Regions from separate parts of the Homo sapiens genome. Here regions 1 and 3 are each linked to region 2. Evidence: fine-mapped expression QTL. A gene starts in region 2. Each other region holds a variant in brackets. All regions are shown on one strand. Distances are between the middles of the regions. Region 1 overlaps LOC105370003 (a long non-coding RNA gene). Region 2 holds the start of LINC00173 (long intergenic non-protein coding RNA 173). Region 3 overlaps MAP1LC3B2 (microtubule associated protein 1 light chain 3 beta 2).

The links. PIP is the estimated chance that this variant, and not a neighbour inherited with it, causes the effect.
Region 1: its variant is the best candidate, but not a certain one, in a credible set for the expression of LINC00173 in naive CD4 T cells (Schmiedel 2018, PIP 0.77).
Region 3: its variant is the best candidate, but not a certain one, in a credible set for the expression of LINC00173 in unexposed skin (GTEx, PIP 0.86).

What each region holds. Positions count from the first base shown.
Region 1 is chr12:115,708,645-115,714,849 of GRCh38, forward strand. All of the region lies in intron 1 of LOC105370003 (a long non-coding RNA gene), which reads right to left. Among named protein-coding and RNA genes, the nearest start is that of LINC02463, 170 kb to the right of the region's middle. RefSeq lists an enhancer at 1,560-1,854. The variant C/G (reference allele first, on the strand shown) is at 2,722.
Region 2 is chr12:116,530,842-116,537,046 of GRCh38, forward strand. It overlaps LINC00173 (long intergenic non-protein coding RNA 173), which reads left to right and starts at 2,594. Exons shown (of 3, transcript NR_027346.1): 1 at 2,594-2,775; 2 at 5,279-5,370; 3 at 5,512-5,672. RefSeq lists silencers at 2,405-2,606, 2,511-2,560 and an enhancer at 3,969-4,503.
Region 3 is chr12:116,566,328-116,572,532 of GRCh38, forward strand. The region is part of intron 1 of MAP1LC3B2 (microtubule associated protein 1 light chain 3 beta 2); the gene reads left to right. Among named protein-coding and RNA genes, the nearest start is that of MAP1LC3B2, 10 kb to the left of the region's middle. The variant A/G (reference allele first, on the strand shown) is at 2,682.

The sequences.
Region 1 (6,205 bases), 820 kb before region 2:
ACATTGGATGACATTCCTAAAAGGCTTATTGAACACAGGTTTAAACAGGCTCTCTATAGAAGAGTTTACCAAGTCACATCTGGATAGAGTGACTGATTCATTCCAAGACCTTTAGTCTTGAAAGTCTTTCATCCTGGGAAACCCGTCAGTCCTAGGTACACCAGGATGATGGTTAACTTTCCTTGGGGTCAAGATGATGGTTCCAGCTCTGATTCCCTCAATGCACCTAGGCCTGGTGAGGGAGAGTTTATGAGTATGAACGTGCAGCTTTTCTAGGACTTAGAAACTTCTCTGACATGGAGAAAATGAGGCAACAGAGAGAGAGGCAGAAGCGCTGGCCAAAGTGTCAAAAACTCTGGCTCTGCTACAAATTCACTGCTTAAACCTGGAATCCAGCCATGTGCTTCTCTTATCCACTAAAAATAAATGGGATGGGGTTAACTTTCTCTGAAAGTCTTTCATCTGTCATGCCAATATCTAGCCTTCCACTTATCCATCCATAATATAGTATTGTGGTTGGCTGCCCAGATTTGAATACCTGCTCTGACTTTCTAGCTGTGTAACCTTAGGTAAGTTATTCACCTCTTTGAGCTTCAGTCCCCTCATCTTTAAAGTAGAGATAAAAATGGGAATCCACTTCACAGTACACGGAAGCTATTTATAATGGGGCTTTGGCATTTGGAAAATGTTCTGTAAATATCGGTTGATATTATATCAATGCTCTTTGTAAACCAATTTGTTTCACTTAGTAAATATTAACTGAATACAGTAGATGTGACACCAGAGACAGAATGAACAAAATCCTCACAGCCCTTGCCTCTTTCACATGAAAAAGCCCAATTTCAAAATCCAGATGAATTAACGACCAACTCCTTCCCTTCTGAAGTTGAGATTAAAGAGAGTGAGAGAGGCAAAGAAAGAGGGAGAGGCCGAGCTCTCCCTAGTGCATGAGCCAAAACATACATCCTGCTCTGCATGGCCAGCCATAAATCCATTGCTCGGTGAGGGTTCTTCCCAGCTAGCATGGCGACCGTTCGGAATATGCAGTATTCCTCCACAACTGGCTGTAATTACCAGCCAGATAATTACCCAGCCAACCCACTTCCCTTGCATATCTCTCAGCAAGCAGGGAACAGCACAAGAAAAAAAAGAAAGAAAAAAAAAAAACCTTCCTCTGTTCTTGTGAGCCTCCGAGCCTCCTAGCTAGGCCAACTTCAGGAGGTCGCTGCCAAAAGCACTCCCTCGGGAATACACTGGGTTGCCGAGCTGAGCGTGCCAATGCCTTAAATTGTTTTATGTTTTTTGTCTCTATGAATTAGAAACCATTAAGAGAAGGCCACCCAAGGAAACCAAGCACAAAATATATTTGGTTACAGATGGATGGGAGAGGTTTGTTCTTGCTTTTTTTTTTTTGCCTTTTTCTTCCCCTGAAGAGAGCAAGTACAATTTTTTTTTCTTTTTTGCATGGCTGATACTTTTGGAGCCAGGATCTTGGAGCCCAAAGAGTGTAAAGAGCACATCCTCCTGGGTGTGGAGGAGATGTTTCTTCTATAAACATCCTTGCCAAAGCAGCTGGGCTTGGCCCCGGATACTCCTCTCATATACATAGTCAAGGCAACCTTGGGAAGCATGAAAATCCTGGTGAATCAGCTGCAAATACTGGCAAGGGAAAGATACACTGCTGAGGCGGTAGCTGCATCTGTATGAGCTTCTGCTCAGATCCCCAACCAGCACCACCCCCATGTGACCAATGACTCACCACCATTCCAATTCCCAGTTAAGCAAGTAGATTCTGGAGTAAGTAACCTGAGTGCAAAATCCTGCATCTTCCTCTTACCATGTGAGCAAGTTATGCAACCTCTCTGTGCCTCAGTTTTCTCATCTGTAAAATGGGGAGAATAAGGGTACTACCTCATGCGGTTGATGTCAGGATTAAATGAGGTGATGTTTAGCGAAGTACATAGCACCTGTATGTGACCAATAAGTGTTACCTACTATTAAAAGTTACTTAACTCCCCTGTTAAATGAGCTATAGCTCAGTTTGCATAGCATTAAAATGGGGATTCTTTGGGGGTTTCTTGTAAGGATTAATTTGATGACATTTTATAGATCTGATCCCAATTCCAAAATAAATATTTTGGGCCCAGAACTGTACTGAATAGTCTATGTACATTATCTTATTAGATCCTTATATTAATTTGGAAAACTCAGCATTATTTGTCTATTGAGAAAATTAAGCCTCAGATAAGTCATGAGTTTGAAATTTCTCTCATGCCAAATTTGTCAGATTAGAAAGATTAGATGTCTGATTGCACCTACAAAGACAGATGACGTAAAGTAAGGTTGGATGTAAGTAAGTCTCCCCCTAGGATGGGAGTGTACAAATGCTTATTAGGGATCATTCTTGCTTTTCTTTCCTTCCATATTCTCTGAACAAACCTTGTGTCTAATTTGGCTTCCTTGTCTCAGGATTGGGAAAGCCAAAATAGCAGACTTAAGTTTGTGATAAGAAAGAATAATTATGCACCATCAATTACCCAATTAGAGTCTGGTTGCTACCTCAGTCTTATGGAAATGTGGTGGAGATGTTATCACTTGCCCAGATTCTCATCAACTTGTTTACACTGATCAAATCAAGTTTCTGGGGTATATTAACCCCACAAACGAACTTCGGCCACCATCATTATCGCCACCATCACCATGAGATCTCTACCATTATCA[C/G]CAACACCAATTCCACCATTACTATGATCTCCACCACCATTACTCCACACCACTTTCCACCATCACCATAACCATCGCCACAATCACTATCACCCCACCACCACTACTTTACTAATTCTACCACCATCAGAATCACCATCTCCTCCACAACCTCCACCTCCCTCACCAACATCATCATCACCATCTCTACCCACCACCACCATAGTATCTCCACCATCACCACCATCCCCACTACACTATGACCATCACCATCACCACCACAACCATCATCTCTACCACCATATCACCCCAGGAGTCCTTAGCTGAACAAAATCTAAATTTTGGAGACAAGAAAGAGTTTAATTTAGAAGTTGGGCAATTGGGTGCATTAGCAAGAGTACATCACACTCAGTGTGTGACCCCATACATCTTCCCCTGAAGTAGTGAGCTTTTCTTCCAATCCACAGCTCCCTTTGCATTATCTGAGCTTGAGCTTCAGCCAAACCAGATGTCAGTTAAAGACAATAGATAACAGATGCTACCCAGAAAGATGTCTACAGGAAGAACATGTGTCTTAGAGTGAAACATGGATTTGAACCTAGCTCTACCACTTACCATCTCAACACCCACAAGCAAGAGCCTAAACTCCTCTAACACTCAGTTTCCTCATCTGTAAAATATGGAAAATAATTCCTGCCTTAGCAGATTTGAGTTGCAATTACATGAGTACCATGGCCAAACACCATGTTTAGCATATATTAGACTCTCAATAAATACTTAATCATATTATTAAACCAAGATGTCTAAAGAGCCTTATTCTCTACACACTCCCACTGAATACAGTTTTATTAGAAGCAAAATAGCAGCTCACTATCCTGGAGCCAACAAGAAAGAAGTTAATTCTGGAGAAATTAAAACATTTGAAACATTTAAAATGAAGGTCTCTTGTTTTTATTGTAAAAGAAACATGCTGTAAATTACAACACAGTCAGATGTACAAAGGAGATGCACCTTATTAGAAATGCAATCTCCCAAGAAGGGGTCATTTGGTGTGATGGAGAACACACAAACTCACAGTGTAATTCATTTGAGTTGACAAGCCCAAACTGGTACAGGTTGAGTATTCCGTATCTGAAATGCTTGGAACCAGAAGCATTTTGGATTTTGAAATTTTCTTTAGATTTTGGAATATTTGTACTATGCTTACCAGTTCAGCATCCCTAATTTGAAAATCCAAAACCCAAAATGCTCCAATGAGAATGTCCTTGGAGCGTAACGTGGGTGCTCAAAAAGTTTCAGATTTTGGAGCATTCTGGGTTTTGGATTTTCGAATTAGGGATGCTCAACCTGTATGAGTAAAAAGCTCTCTTCTATCCTCAGTCTTGCTTCTTGTTTTATTTCTCTTAGATTTTTTTTCCTCTCTGTGTCAAAAAAGAAAAGCTCATGGCTTCATCAAGGAAGTGAAATTCTCATTTTCCTAGACAGTTCTTACAGAGCACGGAGTTTATTGCCCTGTAATCAAAGGACTCCACCTGGAGCTCAAACACGGGTAGATGATGTGACAAGAAGATAGAAACAGAGCTGGAAGTTTGAGCTACCTTCCTTCCTACCCACACAATGAGAAGATCATCCGGATGCTCTAACAGGGCTTTGCTAACTACAGGTTCAATGTACCTAGGGGAAAAAAGAGGCAAAAACTAATCAGGGAAGATAAACCAGAAGGCTGCTAAGTTTTCATCAGTCAATGGCTAATGGACAAAAAGAGAAAAATGTCCTGAGTTGTTCATATAGTACTCAGTACAAAAGTACTCAATACAAAAAACTGACCTTTATTGTAAGATTCTGTTCTTTCTATATTTATTGTTATTAAAAATTCTCTTTGGCAATGGAACAAGAGCAATTCATGCCAGCCAGTCTTTCTTCTCCTTCCCCTACCAGCTATAAGGATCACTTTTCCCAATGTCTTTCCTTCTTTATCCAGAGAACGAGTTCTGCCTTTGTTAGATAATTGGACTAGGGTGCAGGAAGGAGCTTTCTTGATGCTGAACCAGAGGAAGGGAGGAACAGACCACTGCCACCAGAAAGAAAAGTGGGGAAAGGACTGAGAAGGTGGGAGGGTAAGCCAATCTGCATGGCAAACAGCTAGAAACACACGGGGAAGGAAGAGGGAGAAAGTTAAAGCCCTGCAGAAGGGGGTTGAGAAGATTTGGAAAGTTTGGGTGCAAAAACTTGGGGAGATAAGAAGGGAGAAAATGGGTTTTAAGAATTGGTCATGGACCAGGCGTGGTGGCTCACGCCTGTAATCTCAGCACTTTGGGATGCCCAGGTGGGTGGATCACAAGGTCAGGAGTTAGAGATCAGCCTGGCCAATATGGTGAAACCTTGTCTCTACTAAAAATACAGAAAAAATTAGCTGGGCGTGATGGTGCATGCCTGTAATCCCAGCTACTCAGGAGGCTGAGGCAGGAGAACTGCTTGAGACAAGGAGGCGGAGGTTGCAGTGAGCCGAGATCGTGCCATTGCACTCCAGCCTGGGGGACAGAGCTAGACTGCATCTCAAAAAAAAAAAAAAAAAAAAAAAAAAAAGAATTGGTCATTATGTCATTTAAAAACTAAGATGACTTTAGATGGGAAGATACTCTGTAGATGCTACTTCTTTGAAAGCAGCTTCACTTCAGAACTAAAACTTTTGAGCCACAGTTTTAATCAAGTGCCACATTTACAAACTGATAGTAATTGCAGATAGCAATTTTTAAAATGTTACCTAACTTGGCAAACAAAAGAGTTGGCAAACTTTTGTCAGCCTCCCAACCCAACGAGTTTTAGAATTGCTTTCAAATTTTACAAAGCATTGCTTTGGCACACCAAGTTGACTTTTCTCCAGGGACGATTCCTTTTATTCTGGTTATAATGGGATCTCTTCCTAGAAGAAAGCAGGAGGATAAACCACCTTCTGAGTTTAGTTAATATAAACAGTCTCTTAATACATTTTAAAAAGCTGATTATTGACTTATAAAAGTCTACATGATCCCAGGTTTTGAAGTAATGGAAATGAACATTTAATGTTTGCAAGTAACTTCCACAGGCCAGGCACAGGCTAAGGTACTTTGTGTGCCTTACTTAGGGAAACAGAGAAGGAGGGCATGAGACCTTCATAAAGGGGGAATTATGTTTGATGGAATACAGAGGAGGCAGGAAGAGAAAGGGGTCCAGGACGACTCCTGAATTTTTGTTCTGATCTACTGAATTGACAATGGGACATTCCTTACGCTAAGGGACGTTACGGAAGAGAAAATTCGGGAAGTGGGGAAAAAATAAGTTAGATTTGAGACCTGTAGGATCCCCAGTGCCTGACAGATAGACAAGTGCCAATGTCCAGGAAGCTTTGGGATAGGTGGATTTGAAGAAAAGATACAGAATAAGAGATCTGAATTTAGACATCAACCCTAAAGATAGTCCCAGACAAGACTTAAATTGGTATTGAGATTTACCCGACATCCCACCA
Region 2 (6,205 bases):
CGGGGCTTCACCATATTGGTCAAGCTGGTCTCGAACTCCTGACCTCAGGCAATCCACCCCGCTTGGCCTCCCAGAGTGCTGGGATTACAGGCGTGAGCCACTGTGCCCGGCGCAAACTTTTTTTTTTAACAGAAAATAACAAGTGTTGGTTGGCAAGGATGTAAAAAATTGGAGCCCTGGTGCACTGCTGGTGAAAATGTAAAATGGGCAGTCACTGAGGAAAATAGTGTGGCGGTTCTTTGACAAGCTAAACACAGAGTTACTGCAGAACCTAGCAGTTCCATTCCTAAGTATGTACCCCAAACAATTGAAAACAAAGGTTCAGGCCAGGCGCGGTGGCTCACACCTGTAATCCCAGCACTTTGGGAGGCCAAGGCAGGGGAATCAGGAGTTGAGGTCCTGACTGAGGTCAGGAGTTCGAGACCAGCCTGGCCAACGTGACAAAACCCCTTCTCTACCGAAAATACAAAAATTAGCCAGGCGTGATGGCGCACTCCTGTAATCCCAGCTACTCGGGGGGCTGAGGCAGGAGAATCGCTTGAACCCGGGAGGCAGAGGTTGCAGTGAGCCGAGATTGCGCCACTGAATTCCAGCCTGGGGAACAGAGGGAGACTCTGTCTCCAAAACATAAATAGATAGATAGATAAATAAACAAATAAATAAATGCAAATATTCAAATGAAAACTTACCCACAATTGTTCATAGAGCACTATTCACAATAGCCAAAAGGTGGAAACAACCCAAATGACCCCTAGCCAGTGAATGGATCAACAAAATGTGGTCCATCCAGGCAATGGAACAGCACTGAGCCATAAGAAGAAAGGAAGCACTGGCATGCGCTACAGCATGGATGAGCCTTGAACACATGATGCTGAGTGGGAGAAGCAGACACAAAGATTATATATCGTAGGATTCCACTTACATGAAATATCCAGAACAGGCAATCCATAGAGACAGAGAGCAGATTGGCAGCTGCCAGGGGCCAACGGGAGGGAAGAATGGGAAGTGACTGCTAATGGGTACCGAGATTCTGTTTGGGGTGATGGAAAACTTCTGGACCTGGCCAGGCATGGTGGCTCACCCCTGTAATCCCAGCAGTCTGGGAGGCCAAGGTGGGTGGATCACCTGAGGTCAGGAGTTCAAGACCAGCTTGGCCAACATGGTGAAACCCTGTCTCTACTAAAAATACAAAAATTAGCCAGGCGTGGTGGCAGGCACCTGTAATCCCAGCTACTCGGGAGGCTGAGGCAGGAGAATCACTTGAACCTGGGAGACAGAGGTTACAGTGAGCCAAGATCATGCCACTGCACTCCATCCTGGATGACAGAATGAGACTCTGCCTCCAAAAAACAAAACAAAACAAACAAATAAAAAAAAAAAAAAGATGGTGGCAGCTCACACCTGTAATCCCAGCAACTGGGGAAGCTAAGGCAAGAGGTGTGGCAGCTCACACCTGTAATCCCCAGCAACTGGGGAAGCTTGAGGCCAGGAGTTCAAGACTAGTCTGGGCAACATGATGAGATTTGATCTCTACAGAAATAAAAATAAAAATTAGCTGGGCATGGGGGCAAGCACCTGTGGTCCCAGCTACTCAAGAAGCTGAGGCAGGAGGATTGCTTGTGTCCAGGAATTCAAGGCTGCAGTGAGCTACGATCACACTGCTGCACTCCAGCCTGGGCAACAGAGGGAGACCATGTCTTTAAAAAAAAAAAAAAAAAAAAAAAAAAGATGGCGCTAGAGAGACAGTTGATACAGGGTATGGATGGTGACCATCATTGATCATCATGGCTGCTGGTGGGTAGTGGATGGGAGTGAGAACAGCATTAAGAGGAAGGCCAGTGATGAGGCGGGGACAGTGGTCCAGGAGGAAGATGCAGGTGGCCTGGACCAGGGGGCACACAGTGAGCCACGTGTGTCAGGCAAAACCAAGAGGGCTTAGTGAGGATCTGGATGCACAATCATTCAATATAGACTCAACTCTGCCCCTCCTATTCAGCACCTGTATGCACTTATGGATGGGAGGAGAGTGTTGGAGGGAGAAAGTATATGTTCTCATAGGGATGCTGAAGAACAGGTCAGAAGACCCCTGGCTTCAAATTTTGACTTTTTCATTGCCAGATCCCGAGAGAGTAACTTCGTTTCTTTGTGCCTGTGTTCCTTCCCCTGTAAAATCAAGGCCCCAACATGCACTTCATAGGTCGTTGTGAGACGGGGACAACAGCACCTGCCCTGGCTACCTCCTAGGGCTCTTGGGAGACCCAAATGAGTTGTTAATCCTTCAAGGACAACACAGATCACGTTGCTGGGCTGATGTCATTGCTTTTGGAAAGCAGGTCCCTTGAACAGATTCTCCCAAAGCAGTGACTTTAGGAACATCTCGAAGGCGACAGATTCCAGTTGTTAAGGCTACGATGAAATAGCAGAAGACTCTGGGAAGCAGCGTGCAACGAGTGGCAAAGGAGCCCCTAACGCTCTTTCTTCTGTGCTCGCCCCGCCCCCTCCGGCGTGGGCCCCGCCCCGACTAAGCCCCAGCCAGGCCCCGCCCCCGATGTTAGCGCAAGCCACGCCTCCTCAGCTCCCAGCCTTCTGGGTCCGAGGCTCCCACCTGCTCTAAGCGCTTGGTACCAGGGAGGGAATGGGAGGACGCTTGCGGGATAGGGAGGCGGGGGCTGGAAATTGGCAGGGTGAGAGCTGGGGAAACTAGTCTGGGACGCAGCCCTCCTTGTCCCCCTTCTTCATTCACCCCCTTGTTGAGGCCCTTGGCTTTTGCATAATGTAAGTACTTATTTAATGCGTGTGCTGGCTCGAGAGCTCTGCATTTGTCTTTCTGTCCTTCATATGCCAGTGTACCTCCGCCTTCTGTCTGTCTAGGTGGGAGCTCCTGGAGAGGAGGGTGCTTCCCAGCAGTTGCTGTTCGACCCCCAGCCCCGGGCCAAGGGCACAGAGAGAGAGACAGAGAGGCTGGGGCTGCAGTGGGGGTGGGGAGGTGGGAGCTGGGGCGGGGCGGAGGGAGCGAGGGGGAGGAATGAGAGCACCATATGACAGGCTTGTGGAACCACATCTGATGCCAACTTGGATGCTGTCCTTTTTCTCCAATAAAAGGAACTTTTCACTTGTTTTTCAGACACCCTTTAAAAAAATGTATTTAAAGAGGCTGGTTCCTATCCATCCGACTGGAGGCATCTCAGTGCAAGAGCAAAGCTAAGTCCTGCACACGCTCCTCCCCTCCTCCTCCTCCTTCTCCCCCCAGGTTTTCCCGAATGTATCTACTCCGGTTACAACTAGACGCGGCCCCTCCCCCACCTGCCTCCCCCCTTCCTTCCCTCGATCGTGGAGGGAGCGTTCTCTGTGCCTTCCCAAGTCCCCGTGGGGGACCTTCTATGTTGGAGTGGGGGGAGGGGGGGAGGGTCATATAACGAAGGCCAGAAAGAACAAATTAGATAATCAAAAGAATTATAGTAATTGCTTTCACTTTCCCCCGCCCGCTCAGCGGATTCCCTCCCCCGCCCCTCCCCTGGTTTTTCTGTCTGTCGGGAATACTCGGTCTTTCCGACCCCCTCCCCTCCCCCAGGTTCCTCCTCTCCTCTCCCCTTGCTCGCGCGTTCCCTCTCTTCCTCCGTTTTCTGGTGTGCTGGAACGTTCAGCGGAATATGATGAATGATCACCTGTCACAGCTTGTTTATTATAATGCAGGCAATCAATTACACATCCCCAATGCTGGCCGGCCCGCAGGAAATTTATATGCTCAGCACAAACCAATGTGAAAATGGAATCTCATTTGCCAAATGTCTTTCTCCCCGTACAGCACGATGATTACAGTCTGTGTTTGTTTCAACAGTCGTGTACAACTGACAGTGCCATCATTTACTGCCTGGCTCAGGTCACGTTACTCTAAGGCTTTATTTATGGTGTTACGAAGGGCAGCACAGGAAAAGGACAAGGGTGTCTGTCAGGGATGGCACTGTGTTAAAAAGTGGGCGTGCAAGGGCCGCATTCCCGGGCAGCCGCTGCAACCTCAGCCCCTGGGCCCTTACCTCCGCAGCCTCTCCCAGCATCCAGCTACCCAGACTCCAAGGCCCCAGGCGAGAGCCAGCTCTCGGTACCTGGAGCTCCACAGGTCCCAGAATCGGGGTGGATCAGAGTTCAAATTCTGGTTCTGCTACTGTCTAATTGCGTGCTGCAGGGACTCAATCTCTTCATCTGGGAAATGGGAGTAATAACCCTTGGCAGGAATGTTGCGATCCTCTGGGATGTCAGAGGTGTTGATGAATGTTAGTTCCCGGGACTTCGGAAAGAGGTCCCGTTGGAAGAGATGTGAATTGGAATTCACACCCTATATTAAAATCTCCTCCAATCTTCACCTCTGAGACATGGCTGTCTCAAGACTGTTTTGTTTCCCTTCCTGGTGGAATTTTGCACTTTTATGTCCTGTGTAGCAGCAGGTAGTGTGGCTTTGAGAAAATAAAATGGCCACCTTGCTCCGCTGTTCTTTCTTTGTAAAAAAAAAAAAAAAAAAAAAAAAACGGCATAGCAATCTTGGCCTTTCTAGCTGTGTGACCCCAGGCCGGTCAATCCCTCCTCCTCTCCAAGCCTCGGATTCCTCCCCTGAGAAGTAAAGAAAATAACTCCTAAACTGCCTCCCGAGGCTTGCTGGCAGGATCCAAGGTGTCCAGAGATGTTAAAAAAAAAAAAAAAAAAAAAAAAAAGCCCAGTAAATGGGAAAGTGAGGCTGTCACTGCTGAGTGGCATCCTGTTTTCAGGAGTTCTGGTTGGTCCCCAGAGTTCTGCTACACAAAATGTTGACCCAAATTTGTACCCCCACAACACTTGGTGTCAAGTGGGAGCTCAGAAACTGAGGGGCAGGCAGATGCTTTTATGTGTATTAGGTTGTCTTTTATTGTATTGTATAGTTCCTTTTTTTTTTTTTTTTTTTGAGATGGAGTCTTGCTCTATTGCCCAGGATGGAGTACAGTGGCACGATCTTGGCTCACTGCAACCTCCACCTCCTGGGTTCAAGCAATTCTCCTGCCTCAGCCTCTCAAGTAGCTGGGATTACAGGCACGTACCACCATGCCTGGCTAATTTTTGTAATTTTAGTAGAGACAGGTTTTCACCGTGTTGGCCAGGCTGGTCTCGAACTCCTGACCTCAACTGATCCACCCACCTCAGCCTCCCAAAGTGCTGGGATTACAGGCTTGAGCCACCGTGCCCAGCCTGTACTATATATTTCTTTATTATTTGACACGTGTATTTGTTTAATGGCCCTCTGCTCCACCAGTATGGAAGCTCCAAAAGGAAAGATACCAGATTGATCTTGATCACCTCTGCCTCCCCAGCACCTAGTCTTCCTTGGCACATCGTGAGTGCTCGGTAAATATCTGTGGCTTTAATGGATGAATGAATGAATGACTACATGGCTAAACTCCATTCTAGGGCAACATCTGTGGTGCAGTGGATGGGCCCTAGTGAATGGATATTTAACGGATATCGTACTATTCCTCATCTCCACAGGGTCAGGCTGTGCCACATCCACCCAGCCTTGCCTGGGGTCATTTATCCTACATGTACTCAGATCACGTGAACTGGTGATGGGCCACCCATGTGCCTGCCTGGAGACTCCTATTCACCCTTCAGATCAATATCCCCCAAATAAACTCCCAGTCACTCTGGCATCCCATGTTGCTTTGTGATCTCTGCCTCTCTCTAGACCATTTGGCTCCTATGCACAGGCAGCTATGTCTTTTTCATATTTGGGTCCCCAAAATGCACAGTGCGGTGCCTGCCTCAAAACAAATGCTTTTCAATCCGTCAATCAATCAGTTGACATGGATCATCTTTTCTCAGCACTGATGTATGGACTACAACTTGGAATTCCATTAAAGCTCCTGGGGTCAAGAAAAAAAGTGATTCAAGTTTATTTATTTATTTTTTTTTGAGACAGAGTCTCATTCTGTCGCCCAGGCTGGAGTGCAGTGGCACGATCTTGGCTCACTGCAACCTCTGCCTCTGGGGTTCAAGTGATTCTCACTCATGCCTCAGCCTCCCAAGTAGCTGGGCAAGAGCCAGCACACCCGGGCTAATTTTTGTATTTTTAGTAGGGACGGGCTTTCGCCATGTTGGCCAGACTGGTCTCGAACTCCTGGCTTCAAGTGATCTGCCCACTTCAGCCTCCCAAAGTGCTGGGATTACAGGCATTTAATCACTG
Region 3 (6,205 bases), 35 kb after region 2:
AGGTAGCTGCAGGCTAGATTATTAAGCAGATTAATTCAACCAAATATATTGACAAATGCACCAGCAGGTAAAGGAAGAAGATGTTCTCTGCTTAGATTGTTGTGAGGAAGTTTCTGTGTCCCCACTCTGCCTAGAGGCTAATCAGATATGTGTGTGTGTGTGTAACCTCTACAAAACAAAACACCCCAAATCCTTAAAATATCCACAAATGTTGTTTTCTTGTATGATCATACCCATTTCAGAGATGAAAAATCTGAGATACAGTACGTGGAACTGTGAGTCAGTGATTAAAAAAAAAAAAAAAAAAAAAAACAAGAATTGAGGCCAGGTGTGGTCACTCATGTCTGTAATCCAAGCACTTTAGGAGACCGAGTCAGGCAGATCACCTGAGGTCAGGAGTTCGAGACCAGCCTGGCCAACATGGTGAAACCCTGTCTCTACTAAAATACAAAAATGTGCTGGGCGTGGTGGTGGGCACCTGTAGTCCCAGCTACTCAGGAGGCGGAGGCAGGAAAATTGCTTGAATCCAGGAGGTAGAGGTTGCAGAGAGCCAAGATCGTGCCACTGCATTCCAGTCTGGGCCACAGAGTGAGACTCTGTCTCAAAAAAAAAAAAAAAAAAAAAAAAAAAAAAAAAAAAAAAAAGAATTGAGTTCAAAACTGCAGGATAAAACTTTTCTGTATGTCTTGAGAATAATTTTGAAAGCAAGAGAAACGGAAAGGAAGAGAAGGGAGAGGGAGGGGAAAGGACAAAGGAGGTAAGGAAAGCAAGTTAGCTCTTTGGCTAATTCATGTCTTCAAAGGTGCCTGGGTTTTTGGAGATTTAGAGTGCTGAGAGATGCTGTTTGCACACCACCAAGATTCAAATTGAAATTATAGGCAAGTAAAAGCACCTCCTATCCCATGGCTAACTCCTTTCTCCAGCTTTACATGTTAGCTATGTCCACCCTCAGGTTCTCAACTTAGAAAGAAGTCTTTTTATTCCTTGAGGGGATTTATTTCTTTCTCAAGAAAGAAATCATGGTAATTTCATGCTGATTGAGAAAAGACCAAAATGAGCTTATAAAATTAATTCCTGGGAGAGTTTTAGTCACTTGTATCTTGTTGACTGCTTTGCAAATCTTTTTTTTTTTTTTTTTGGCCAGGCACGGTGGCTCACGCCTGTAGTCCCAGTACTTTGGGAGGCCGACGTGGGTGGATCACTTGAGGTCAGGAGTTTGAGACCAGCCTGGCCAACATGTTGACTCCAGGTCTCTACTAAAAATACAAAAATCAGCCAGGTGTGGTGGCACATGCCTGTAATCCCAGCTACTCAGGAGGTTGAGGCAGGAGAATTGCTTGAACCCCAGAGGTGGAGTTTGCAGTGAGCCGAGATTGTGTCACTGCACTCCAGCCTGGGTGACAGAGTGAGACTCTGTCTAAAAAATAAAAATAAAAAAATATATATATATATGTAAACCCTCTAAGGGTTTCGGTTGCCAGGAGAGAAGAAAATGGAACCCAAAACACTTAGAGGAGGAATGACAGACTCATTTTATAGAACAGTGGGAAGGGATTTGGGGATTAGGAAAACCTTCTGGGGAAGTGTCTGGAGCCTGCGAGTTCTTGAAAAGGACAAACGATCATGTTCCCCATTGTGTTTCAGATGCCCAGCACAATGCCTGATCTGCACTAGGTGTTCAGTAAATTATTTGTTGAACGAAAGAATGATTAAGTGAGTAAATGTGAATCTCCAGTCAGGCCTAACCTATGTTTTTGCCAAACCAGACTCCAATGCCTTGATAGCTTTGCAGCTCTTTTTCCATTCTTTGTCGTCCTGGCAATTGTCTCTGATCCTTTCAAGGCAATAGATGCGACCCTTTGTGGATTATGAACATCTCTGAGAATCTGCTGAGAGTAACAGGCCCTTTTCTCAAAAAAAAGAATGCACAGACACGTACACACAATTTGGCATATCTTTTCAAGTGAGCGAATGCCCTGAACCTCACATGTGGCCACAGCCTAACAATCTCTGGAGCTTTTCCCACTCTTCTTCCTGTCTCTCTGCCCTGCAGACTTATTTGCTCCTTCACTGGGTCCTCATAGCACTTTTTAAAATCTTTTCAGTTTTTAGCTTAAAACAACATGTACTTTATTCACAAGTCTGTAATTTGTGCAGAGCTTGGGGGATGCCCTCTGGCTCCACTTCAGGCTGGGGCTGGAATCACCTGAAGGATTACTGCATGGTTTGAATGTGTCCCCCAAATTTCATGTACTGGAAACTTAGATCTCCAAGTTCATATGTTGATGGTATTTGGATGTGGGGCCTTTAGGAGGTAATTAGGATTAGATAAAGTCATCAGGGTGCAGCCCCCATGATGGGACTGGTGGCTTTATGAGCAGAGGAGGAGAGGCCTGAGCTGACACACATATTCTTGCCCTTTCATCATGTGATGCCCTCCACCATGTTATGATGCAGCAGGAAGGCCCTTGCCAGACACTGGCACCCTGATATTGGACTTCCCAGCCTCTAGAACTGTAAGAAATAAATTTCTTTTCTTTCTTTTTTTTTTTTTTGAGACAGAATCTCTGTCTCCCAGGCTGGAGTGCAGTGGCGCATCTCCACTCACTGCAAGCTTCGCCTCCTGGGTTCACGCCATTCTCCTGCCTCAGCCTCCTGCGTACCTGGGATTACAGGCACCC[A/G]CCACCACGCCTGGCTAACTTTTTGTATTTTTTTTAGTAGAGATGGGGTTTCACGGTGTTAGCCAGGATGGTCTCGATCTCCTGACCTCATGATCCGCCCACCTCGGCCTCCCAAAGTACTGGGATTACAGGTGTGAACTACCGCGCCCGGCCAATTTCTTTTCTTTATAAATTTCTTTTCTCTAGAAATTACCCAGTCTATGATATTCTGTTATAGTAGCAGAACACAGACTAAGACAATTGCTCACTCACCTGTCCAGAAGCTGTCCAGAGATTGATGCTGAAGAGACCTAAACAGTGGGGAGCTAAAATAGCTGGGGGTCCTCAGGCATCTCCTCCTGTCTCTATGTGGTCTTTCTATGCATTCTCTCTGGCTTATCCAGAGCACTTTAAACATACCTCTCTTACTACTTAACCCACAACGTAGTAGTTGTTATTTGGGCCTGTGGATTGTGGCAATGTACTTAACATCTGTTTCATTGGCAAAACTGTAAATCCTTCAAGGACAAGGACCATAACTTGTTCATCTCTATTTCCTTAAGACCCTAGCAGCTACCTTGTATGTAACTATGTATTTAATATATGCTAGTTGGAATATGCACGTAGGTATGTGTTTATTTTATCATGATGTCCCACTACATTTCAACAAAGAAGTAGAATGGCGCTTATATACATACCTCAATACAACAAAATAAAAATGCAAATCAAAGAAATGGGGATAAAGTAAAAATAAAGCTAGGAAAAATGTTAAAATAAAAGATAACAGGCCAGGCATGGTGGCTCGCTCCTGTAATCCCAGCACTCTGGCAGGCCTAGGTGGGCAGATCACAAGGTCAAGAGATCGAGACCATCCTGGCCAACATGGTGAAAACCTGTCTCTACTAAAAATACAAAAATTAGCTGGGCATGGTGGCACGCACCTGTAGTCCCAGCTACTTGGGAGGCTGAGACAGGAGAATTGGTTGAACCCAGGAGTCAGAGGTTGCAGGGAGCCGAGATCGCGCCACTGCACTCCAGCCTGGCCACAGAGTGAGACTCCATCTCAAAAATAAAATAAAATAAAATAAAATCACTACCCAAAATGCATACCCACAAAGTTGTATATCATTATTGTCAGTGGCTCAGAAGAAGGGGCAAAGAGGGAAATACCCTCATTACTAAAGTTCACAGGGTTGCATACAGATGATCCTCAATTTACAATGGCTCAACTTATAATTTTTCAACTTTATGATGGTGCAAAAGTAACATGCATTCAGTAGAAACTGTACTTCAAGTACCCATACAGCCATTCTGCTTTTTGCTGTTAGTACAGCATTCAATAAACATGAGATATTCAACACTTTATTATAAAATAGGCTTTGTGTTAGATGATTTTGCCCAACTGTAGGTTAATATAAGTGTTCTGAGCTTGTTTAAAGTAGGCTAGGTGATATGGTTGGGCTGTGTCTCCACCCAAATCTTGTCTTGAATTGTAGCTCCCATCATTCCCATGTGTTGTGGGGGAACTCAATGGGAGGTAATTGAATCATGGGGGCAGTTTCCCCCATACTGTTCTGGTGGTAGTGAGTAAGTCTCACGAGATCTGATGGTTTTATAAGGGGTTCCCCCTTTCACTTGGCTCTCATTCTCTCTTGCCTGCTGCCATGTAAGATGTGCCTTTTGCCTTCCACCATGATTGTGAGGCCTCCCCAGCCACGTGGAACCTCTTTTCTTTATAAATTACCCAGTCTTGGGTAAGTCTTTATCAGCCACATGAAAACAAAGTAATACTCTAGGCTAAGCTATGATGTTTGGTAGGTTAGGTGAATTAAATGCATTTTCAACGTATGATAGGTTTACCAGGATGTATTAATAAGTCGAGAAGCACCTGTGTAAGGCAACTGATCACTTGGGAAAACACAGTTTGTGTGAGTAACAAGGTATATAAGAAATGTTCTTCTATCGGTTGCAATTTTATTGCAACTTCCTTGTGATAAAAATGATAGCATATTTATACCATGATTTCTCTGTAATGTGCCTCAATTCAGGTTAAGGGAGGTTCAATACAAGAAAATCTACAAGTGGCCAAAACAAACGGCTTAAAGCTGCAATTCTGTAAGGGTCTGATTTTATCTAAGGACATATTTAAGACCATGTAGTCCAGCTTTTTCTGAAGAGTACACTATGGAATAACAATCTTGGAAAAGCTCTGCCCATAATGGCTTCTGTGGTTGAGGAAAGGTGGGAAACCCACTCACGTCTTCCTCTTGGAAGTGCACAGTAAAACACTAGCATTTTAAAGGCTCTGAGAAGTCCTGCAGTAAGGAAACCCAGCATTTGCCAGGTTTCTCTGACTACTGTTGTGCAAGAACCTTGGGGCAGTCTCAAAATGTGACCTAGGTCCACTGATCCTACCATGAAATGAATTTTTCCTTCTCGTGAGAATAGATGGGAGTAAGGGACTGCTGTTCTTTTTTTTTTTTTTTTTTTTTTTTTTTTTTTTTTTTTTTTGAGACGGAGTCTCATTCTGTCGCCCAGGCTGGGGTGCAGTGGGGCGATTTCTGCTCACTGCAAGCTCCGCCTCCCGGGTTCATGCCATTCTCCTGCCTCAGCCTCCCGAGTAGCTGGGACTACAGGTGCCCACCACCACACCCAGCTAATTTTTTTGTATTTTTAGTAGAGACGGGATTTCACCGTGTTAGCCAGGATGGTCTCGATCTCCTAACCTCGTGATCCGCCTGTCTCGGCCGCCCAAAGTGCTGGGATTACAGACGTAAGCCACCGCGCCCGGCCACGGACTGCTATTCTTAGGGACGTTATTCTGAACTGTCTCTCCTTTGTCCTAAAAAGACCTAGGAGAGAAACAAAGTAATGTCCGCGAAGTTCCTGCTTAAAGCAACTGTTGTTTTTTTTTTTAATGGTCATAGCTGTAGAAAACAACATACTTCTTGTTTGTTTTCTATAGCTATGACCGTTACAAAAAAAAAAAGGGTTAGGGAGAAACTTGTCCTCTTACATTGCAAATAAAGGAAAAGAAGGGTGTGATTGAATGTTACCGAGAGTTCACAATTTCTGCCGCTAAGAAAATAAAAAAGAGTCCTCTCTATAGACATCAGACAAGACCTTTAGATTATCCATAACCTTGATCATAAAATGATCGACACTTGCTCAGGCCAATCAGAAAACCAAAGAGTTGTACCTTCAGCAGATAGATTGCCAGAAGCAGCACGGGCATCGTCTATTTGTTTTGGTATTGCATATGAAAGGAAATCAAGGGTATCTGTTACTCTTTGTCCAGCTCCTGTCTCCTGGTACACTAACATTTTCATCTCAAAAGAATCAAAACGTATCTAGTCCAAAAAGGAAAGGCATGCCTCAGTTCTTTTTTTTTTTTTGAGATGGAGTCTCGCTCTGTCGCCCAGGCTGGAGTGCGGCGGCGTGATCTCAGCTCACTGCAAGCTCCGCCTCCCAGGCCCACACCATTCTCCTGCCTCAGCCTCCCGAGTAGCTGGGACTACAGGCTTCCGCCACTACACCCGGCTAAT